2 linked regions of the Homo sapiens genome follow. The protein of the gene in region 2 purifies or fractionates together with the protein of the main gene of each other region. This does not show direct contact. Each region holds a gene or a part of one and is shown on either strand. Other genes may lie near its edges. The genes, in order: GAK and DAPP1.

What was found.
Region 1: the proteins of DAPP1 (region 2) and GAK purify together in Homo sapiens (affinity purification with mass spectrometry; one large-scale study listed by BioGRID and IntAct). This does not show direct contact.

Annotation. Positions count from the first base shown.
Region 1 is NC_000004.12:869,755-873,569, forward strand, and holds part of GAK (cyclin-G-associated kinase), read right to left. Parts: exon of another isoform or gene 3,547-3,815; intron 3,472-3,546; exon of another isoform or gene 3,314-3,471; intron 1,151-3,313; coding exon 957-1,150; intron 1-956. UniProt on the Homo sapiens protein: Associates with cyclin G and CDK5. Seems to act as an auxilin homolog that is involved in the uncoating of clathrin-coated vesicles by Hsc70 in non-neuronal cells. Expression oscillates slightly during the cell cycle, peaking at G1.
Region 2 is NC_000004.12:99,819,552-99,823,366, reverse strand, and holds part of DAPP1 (dual adapter for phosphotyrosine and 3-phosphotyrosine and 3-phosphoinositide), read right to left. Parts: intron 1-3,815. UniProt on the Homo sapiens protein: May act as a B-cell-associated adapter that regulates B-cell antigen receptor (BCR)-signaling downstream of PI3K.

The sequences.
Region 1 (3,815 bases), about 99 Mb from region 2:
AGATGCACAGTACACACGAATGCACACACAGCAGAGATGCATGGTACACACAAATGCACACACACAGGCACAGTACACATGAATGCACACAGCACACATAGATGCAGGGTACACATGAATGCACGCACACAGATGCACGGTACACACACATGCACACACTCGGATGCACAGTACACATGCATGCACACACACAAATGGACGGTACACACGAACGCACACACAGCACATACCGATGCATGGTACACACGAACGCACACACAGCACACACAGATGCACTGTACACACGAATGCACACAGCACACAGATACACAGTACACATGAATGCACACACCACTCGTGCACACACACACACGGCACACACCACCCACGGACACATACACAGCACGCACAGGTCACACATACAGCCTCTTTCAGGGACGCTGAAGATGCTCAGAAAGAAAAAGCAAACACTGCAAACCAAGAGCCGAGAACAAGCGTGGCATGAGCAGTGGACGGCCCTGGGCCCACCTGCCAGCACTTCCTGGGCTGCCGTTTCGAAACTGCTCGGAAGTGAAGAGCGACAGGAGCGAGGGTTCTGTTCCACATGCTGCCAGCAGGCCTGAGGCTCACAGTGAGAGTGGACGTGTGTCCAGCACACATGACAAAAATCTGACCCAGACACACGCCTGGGACAAAACCCCGCTTCGCTCCAGGAGCCTGGGTTTTCCTCCCTCTGCCTCCGTCCCTGCCCATGGGCCTCAGAAATTGCAGCCTGCGAGTCCTTCTCTGGTGTAGCTGGTGGTGGTGTCCAACATCCACGACGGAGTTTCCAAAACCTCCTGCAGCCCAAGCTGCTCAGGGCCTGGGTGCAGCAGCAGGCGTGGGGCCCAGCCCTGCCAGAGCTCAGCCAAAGGTGTCTCTCTCCACAGAGACACTCACCAGAACAGGGTTCACCTAATTCACCTGCGGGATCTTACCAAACTTAGACAGAATGTCTTGCTGCTCCTCCCGGCTGGAAAACAGGATTTTGGGGTTCAGCCCCCTCATGCTCGAGTTCTCCCATGGTGGGGCTTCCCGGCTCGGCCTGTCCCTGGGCTCCACCTCCACTTCCAGGTTCACTTGAAATAAATCCGGGTATTTTTCTTGAATGTCACACGCGTCCAGGTCATACCTGCGGTTACAAGTAGACACCACTTAGGAAGGCCACCCAAGTAGTCTGTAAGTCCTTGGACATTCACTAAAGAAACGTGCATGGAAACAGGTGGCAGCTGCAGGCAGCGGGGCGAGAACAACCAGGGCAGCCGGCCACCCCCGCCTGCGGAAGCTGGAGCCCTGTGAGCTGACCCAGCAGCTGTCCCAGGAACCCACAGGGCACCAGCACCCCCGGTCACGGCCCCAGAAGAGCATCATTTCACTCGCTCCTCGGACGTCACAGTGGGGATGCCCGCGACTGTGTTCAAGGCAGAGGGGCACCGGGCGGGGCCGCCATGTTTCCTGCAACTCCAGGGGAGGCCACGTGCTCAGAGCAGACGGGACAACATCCCACAGCTGGAGACTCCGGCACCCAGGCAGGCAGCTCTGAGGTGGGACCCCAGGGTTCCAAGGCAGGCGCTGGCCCTCACTACCCAGCACACACAGACTGCAGCCACCCGGCAGCTCAGAGCACGCACTCTGGGATACTAAATGTGTTTTCCATAAAAATGACGACGTCCGCCCTGACAAAAATCCACAACTGTCAACAGATGCCCATAAAACCAAGACCTCTAGAATCCGGCTGCCAGGGAATTGGGAACATGATTCCGGGGGAAACAAAGCTGTGTTCACTGTGGGGCTGGGGAGGCAGCCCAGGCTGAGCTGTGGGGAGCAGGGCAGAGGTCAGCAGGGCCTGCCTTGGGGTGTCGGCCGTGCGGGTGGGGAGCAGGGCAGGGGTCAGCAGGGCCCACCTTGGGGTGTCGGCCATGTGGGTGGGGAGCAGGGGCAGGGGTCAGCAGGGCCCGCCTTGGGGTGTTGGCCGCACGGGGAGGCAGGTGTGACCTGACACTGACCATTTCCCAGCCCCACAGCTCTCTAAGGAATTCCAGGCTATTTCACACATTTCCTATGATCATCTCTGATCCCACTGTCATAAACTGCACTGATAAGCCTGGGCTCTCCAGCGGGCAGCAGGCTCCCCATGCCTGTCTTATTTTACGCCACCTAAAATCTCTACATGTTGAATGTTATACACCTAAGAAAATAAAGAAGAAACACAAAAGAGTGGCGGCCAGTTCCTGGGAAACCCAGGCTGCCAGTGTCTGCAGGGCCAGGAACACCCAGAGCAGAGTGGGATCCGCCGAGGGAGGGCAGGGAGACGGGCCCGGCGGCCTGTGTGGGTCAGAGCCACGGCTGGTTTTAACTGTCACTTCTCTGAGCTCCACACATGCCTGTGATGTGTGAAAGGCCTCTAGTTCACCCCTTCCTGCTCACCCTCTAAAACATCCTCTCCCTGCACGAGGGGAGAGCACCCTGTGCCCGCCCTGAGGGGTGGCCAACCTCACGCAGAGCAGCGCCCCCTCAATGCCCACTCAAGGCTCTGGGCGGAGGTGGCCACGGCCGAAGCCGGGACTGATGTGCACTCCAGCCGGGGCCAACACGAGCTTCCCCCTGCGCCCGAGCCTCTTTGCGTGCCGCTGTCTGTCGTCAGGGGTGGCAGGGACTGCACAGCGGTGGCACAGCTGGCGTGGAGATGTGGAGGAGGCAACGTCTGCAGAGGAGCCTGCAGGCACCAGCAGAGAATCCGACGGCCACCGCAGCGGAGGCTCAGACCGGCCACGACCGAGGGCGGAGAGGCACAGTGGGAGGGGCACGGAGGGAGGGAGTGTGCAGGGAGCCAGGTCGGCCAGACGGGCTTGGGTCCTGGGACAGACCGAACTTGGGCAGCCCCAGAGGGAGTGCCGCTCATGCCCAGCCTCCCTCCCCCAGCTGCCCCTTGAGATGGCCCTGGGCACTGGGCCTGCAGGCTCGGCTCACCCAGCCTGGCGCTGAGGGCACAATGAGGTCTGTGAGCAGGGCTGGCCACTCCCGAGAGCCCTGGACTGCAGAGGACACTGCCCGCAGGCTCCTGCCAGACTAGCTCCAACAGGGCAGAGCGGACTCCTGACAGGCTCAGCTGTTACATCTGTGCCATGGCTGCAACCCTGTGCTCCTCTCGCCCAGGCACGGCGCAGGCTCACCACGCAGGGAACACGCCTCTCGCCCAGGCACGGCGCAGGCTCACCACGCAGGGAACACGCCTCTCGCCCAGGCACGGCGCAGGCTCACCACGCAGGGAACACGCCTCTCGCCCACAGCGCAGCCTTGATCTCGCAGGTTCAAGCAATCCTCCTGCCTCCCAAAGTGTTGGAATTACAGCTGTAAGCCACTGTGCGCAACCAACCTTTCTTCCTTTTAATGTATGCATTTGAAGTTACACATTTCCTCTAAACCCTGCTTCAGATGCACCCCACACATCTGGTAAGTGGTATTTTGATTATCAATGTGTTTAAAATATTTTCTCATTTCAACAGTGATTTCCTTTTTGGCACACAGGTCACTTAACGAGCATACGGTCTCTGGGTGTTTTCCTGTCACTGATTCCCACTTTAATCCACTGTTGAGATGCCTTGAGACTTGCTGTATGACCCAACGTGGAGTCCACTTTAATAAACGCCCACTTGAACAGATGCCATTTCTCCAAGTATTCGCTGAAGTTTGCAAAACTCAGGTCAAGTTGGTTAAACCTTGTAAAAAAAAAAAAACTATATCCTGTTCTTGTCTACCTGTTCCACTGCCTGGGGAGAGAGGCGGCCATCAGCGTG
Region 2 (3,815 bases):
TGCTTCTCTTCATCTCTCTAATTTTTGATAATTAATATATATTACTATTATTTTCAACTATTTATTATAAATAAATTCAGATATACTGGAAAGTAGAAAAATAGCATCAATGTTACTGCATTGAAATAATACCCATATTTCAGGTAGAATAATTTTTAACCTTTTGCCACATTTTTAATACAACGTTTAATTTTGACTCTTTCGATGAACAGTTTTAAAGTAAATTACAGATATCCTGACACTTTAACCCTAAATAATTCAACATGCATCTCTCAAAAGTGACATTCTTTTACATAATCATCATACTGTTATTAAAACAAGTGATTACTCTTACACTTTTTAAAGTTATAAACATTTTTAAACAAAGAAGGTCTAACAACAGATAATGGGGGCAGGTGCTAGTGGGCAGGGTCAGGGGAAGCATGACCATAAAGAAGCAAGTGGTGAGCAGCGAACACTGATAAGGCCCAGCAGTGTTCACTGTGCTCTTGGTAGAGGCAGGCCTCTATCAGGCAGTAGGACACAGAGGTCGATGGGCTCAGAATAGGAATTTATCCTCTACGGGAGTTGGTAGGAGCCAGAAATTAATGCAGGTTTTAACAAAATATCTAAGAGTATGGTCATGAAAACAGAAGTACAAGAGAAAAGCCAAGTTGAAGCTTCTCATAGGATGAGATGGATAGAGGTAGAGACCAGAACCAGACCACCAGAATGCTGACAAACCAGATGGGTCTTGGGGACTGGGTGGGTCTGAGTTCATGTGAGCTTTTTCAATTCTGAATCCTTGCATATTTTGCTACCATCACTCCTTTATTCAGGCCATTTTCTCTGTAGAAAATTTCACCTTTTCTAACTTCAACTGACAAAAATCATATCAGCTCCAAGGCCATCTTCTCCACTTCTACTGTGGAGAAGATAGCCTTCCATAGGAGATTGTTTTATCTAGACACTGTCACAGCCCTCAGCCCACACAACACTGCATTCTAACTCTACATGCATATGAATCCTCCATCTCTGCACAGCCATGCCTTCTTTATTGTAGTCTCCTCTATGCTGCCTTGCCTGGCGTCATCATACAACAGATAGATCTATGACCCAGTAGAAGAGTGAATGAATGAAACAAAGTGACTCCCCACAACATGGACAGTCTGTGGGACAGATTTCCACTTGTAAGTAGAAGGAAGTCACCCTTTGGAGGAACAGAAAAACACCACAACTGAAGAGGAAATTCACTTGAGTTATGAAGAGATGGAACTGTACACTAGTTACATACTAATTATACAACCACAGAAGAACCACCTTCCGTTTTTAGAATCCAAGATTACAGAGCTGTGCACAGAAGAGGAACAAGCTGTATTGCTGTAGTTAGTGTCACACCGCTGTAAACAGGTTCCACTGAAATTTTGACTTTACGTTTCTTAGCTGAATAAATTTTTCTAGTCCTGAAAATGAATTCTACACAAAATTCAATAATGTTCTGATTAACTAGAATGCTGGCCTGGCTTTGTGTACATGTGCATGTATATTATGTGAGGAATAGAAAGAATAATGTCTTTTATAGTAAACTTTGTTATAATCACAGAACTTTCTTTGCTTCTCTCAGTTCATATTAAGAACTATGAACATGTACTAGTATAGTAAGATGAGAGAAATTTGATGAAAACCAGGAGGTTACATCAGCAGTCAAGCATGAAGGCTCTGGAGCAAAACTCTTGGATTTGAAGGTATGTTAGAATGGAAACTTAAGCATGTGATTAAAACTCTGTTCTTTACTTTTCTCATCTATAAATGGGGACAACATTAGTAATAATACCCACCTCACAGCAATGTGTAAATTAAACAAGTTCACATGGGCAAAGGGCTTAAACTAGTGCTTAGCACATGATAAGCATCCAATAATTACTAATTGCCATTACTAGAATACATACCTTTGACCAGTGGGCTCTACAAAGCAGCACCATGCAGTGGAAAGCTCTGGGGTAAGTTCCTAGGTGTGTCTCTCAGCTCCACTACTTACAAAGTCTGTGACCTGGATCGTATACTTAGCTTATTGAAGTCACCTTTTGCGTCTATGAAATGAGTATGGTGATATCGTATTGAAAGTGTTATTGTGAAGCCTAAATGGCATTATGCGTGTGAATGGTATGGTGCTGATGCATAGTAGGTGGTCAGTAAATTAGGACTATCACAGCAGGGAAACAACCTGGTTTGTGAAGTCAGCATGGGTTTTGAACACAGACACTCAGAGACTGTAGGCAACCTGATTTTTCTGCTCTTGAGTCTCTTCCTGTGTAAAGCTGGAATACCAGTGCCTTTCAAAGACCAGAGCTGGTGTCTACAAAATGCCTGCCTTATAATACGGACTCATTTTGTTTATTATCATTTATTCCGTGGGTCAGCAAACCACCAGCTGAGGGTTAATTCCTGTCAGACACCTGTTTTAGTATGGACTGGGAGCCAAGAATGGCTGTACATTTTGAAATGCTTGAGGGAAATAGAAAAATATTCATAAAAATTATATGAAATTCACATTTCAGTGTATAAATAACGTTTTGTTTGAACACCATCACGGTCATTTGTTTCTGTGTTCTCTGGTAGTTTTTGCACAACAGCAGATGTGAGTAGTTGAGGTAGAGACTGTAAGGCCTGCAAAGCCTAAAACATTCGTTACCCGGCCCTTTATAAAAAAAAGGTTTGCTGCTCCATGGTCTACTCTAAACTTCTCTTATATGTGACTAATTAGTTATCAATTTATTTAAATATTCAGAGCTTGGAATCTAGTTCTTTGGCACTGGCCAATCCAGCCAAACACTGGCACTTTCTTATACAACTTTCGATTTGAGAAAGTATTTAAAAAAGAGAACGTTTATTATGTTTCTCACTTGGAGTTACAACTGACTAGATCATTTGAATATTTAATTTTAAAGTATGCTAAAACACTTTCATTTTGTTATTTCTTTTGTGTTTATACATATATATAGCTATATGTAGAAATAGTATAGTAACCTTTGTTAAAGCCAAAGAATTGCTGGAATTTTCAGTAATTTAACTAGCTATTCTTTACCAGTTTGTTACTTAGGTGATATCTCCAGTATTTGTTACTTGTTTTATTTTGCCATATTTTCATTTTGCAAGCAGCAAACAGCCTGACCCATCTCCTCGTTCATGGTCCACCTCCTTCCTCTCCCCTGATTCTCCACACCCTCACTTCTTGCCCTCCCCACACCTCTCTTCCCCCTAAGCCCATACCCTCCCCTGAGAAGTGTAAGCGAAGCTGAGCAACAATTTAAGATGGTTTTATTTCTCCTTTGCTTCTGGACACATTAATGTATTTTAGATGAAAGAAAATTAATGATTTTAGGCTGACACTCTATAAATGAGACATGGAAAAGCACTGTGTTGCTTGATTTAGGTATTTTAGAAAATAATAAACCTGTACTCTGAGCAAGTTGTATATGTCCTGGAAAGGCAAGTGATGGATTTGCTGCAGTTCAGGGCTCAATTTACAGGATTTACATATTCCAGAGCCTGAAAAAAACAGAGGCCCAAGAACAAAGACTTCTGCTATTTCTGTAATTTAACCACTAACTTATCTGTTTATGTCTATCAAAAACATAAACGTAAGGATTTATCTAACTACTCAAATAACCTCTTAAAAATAATTGAAAAATTAAGTCATTAAAACCAGCTACCTTTTATCTATCCATTACATTAAATCATTTTGTTTTTAAGGAGGTCTTTGGAAACTAAATTAATCAGAAGGTTTGGTAGAGATTCTATCTCGCCAGTGGTTAAAGGTTCAAAGAAAAAGTCAT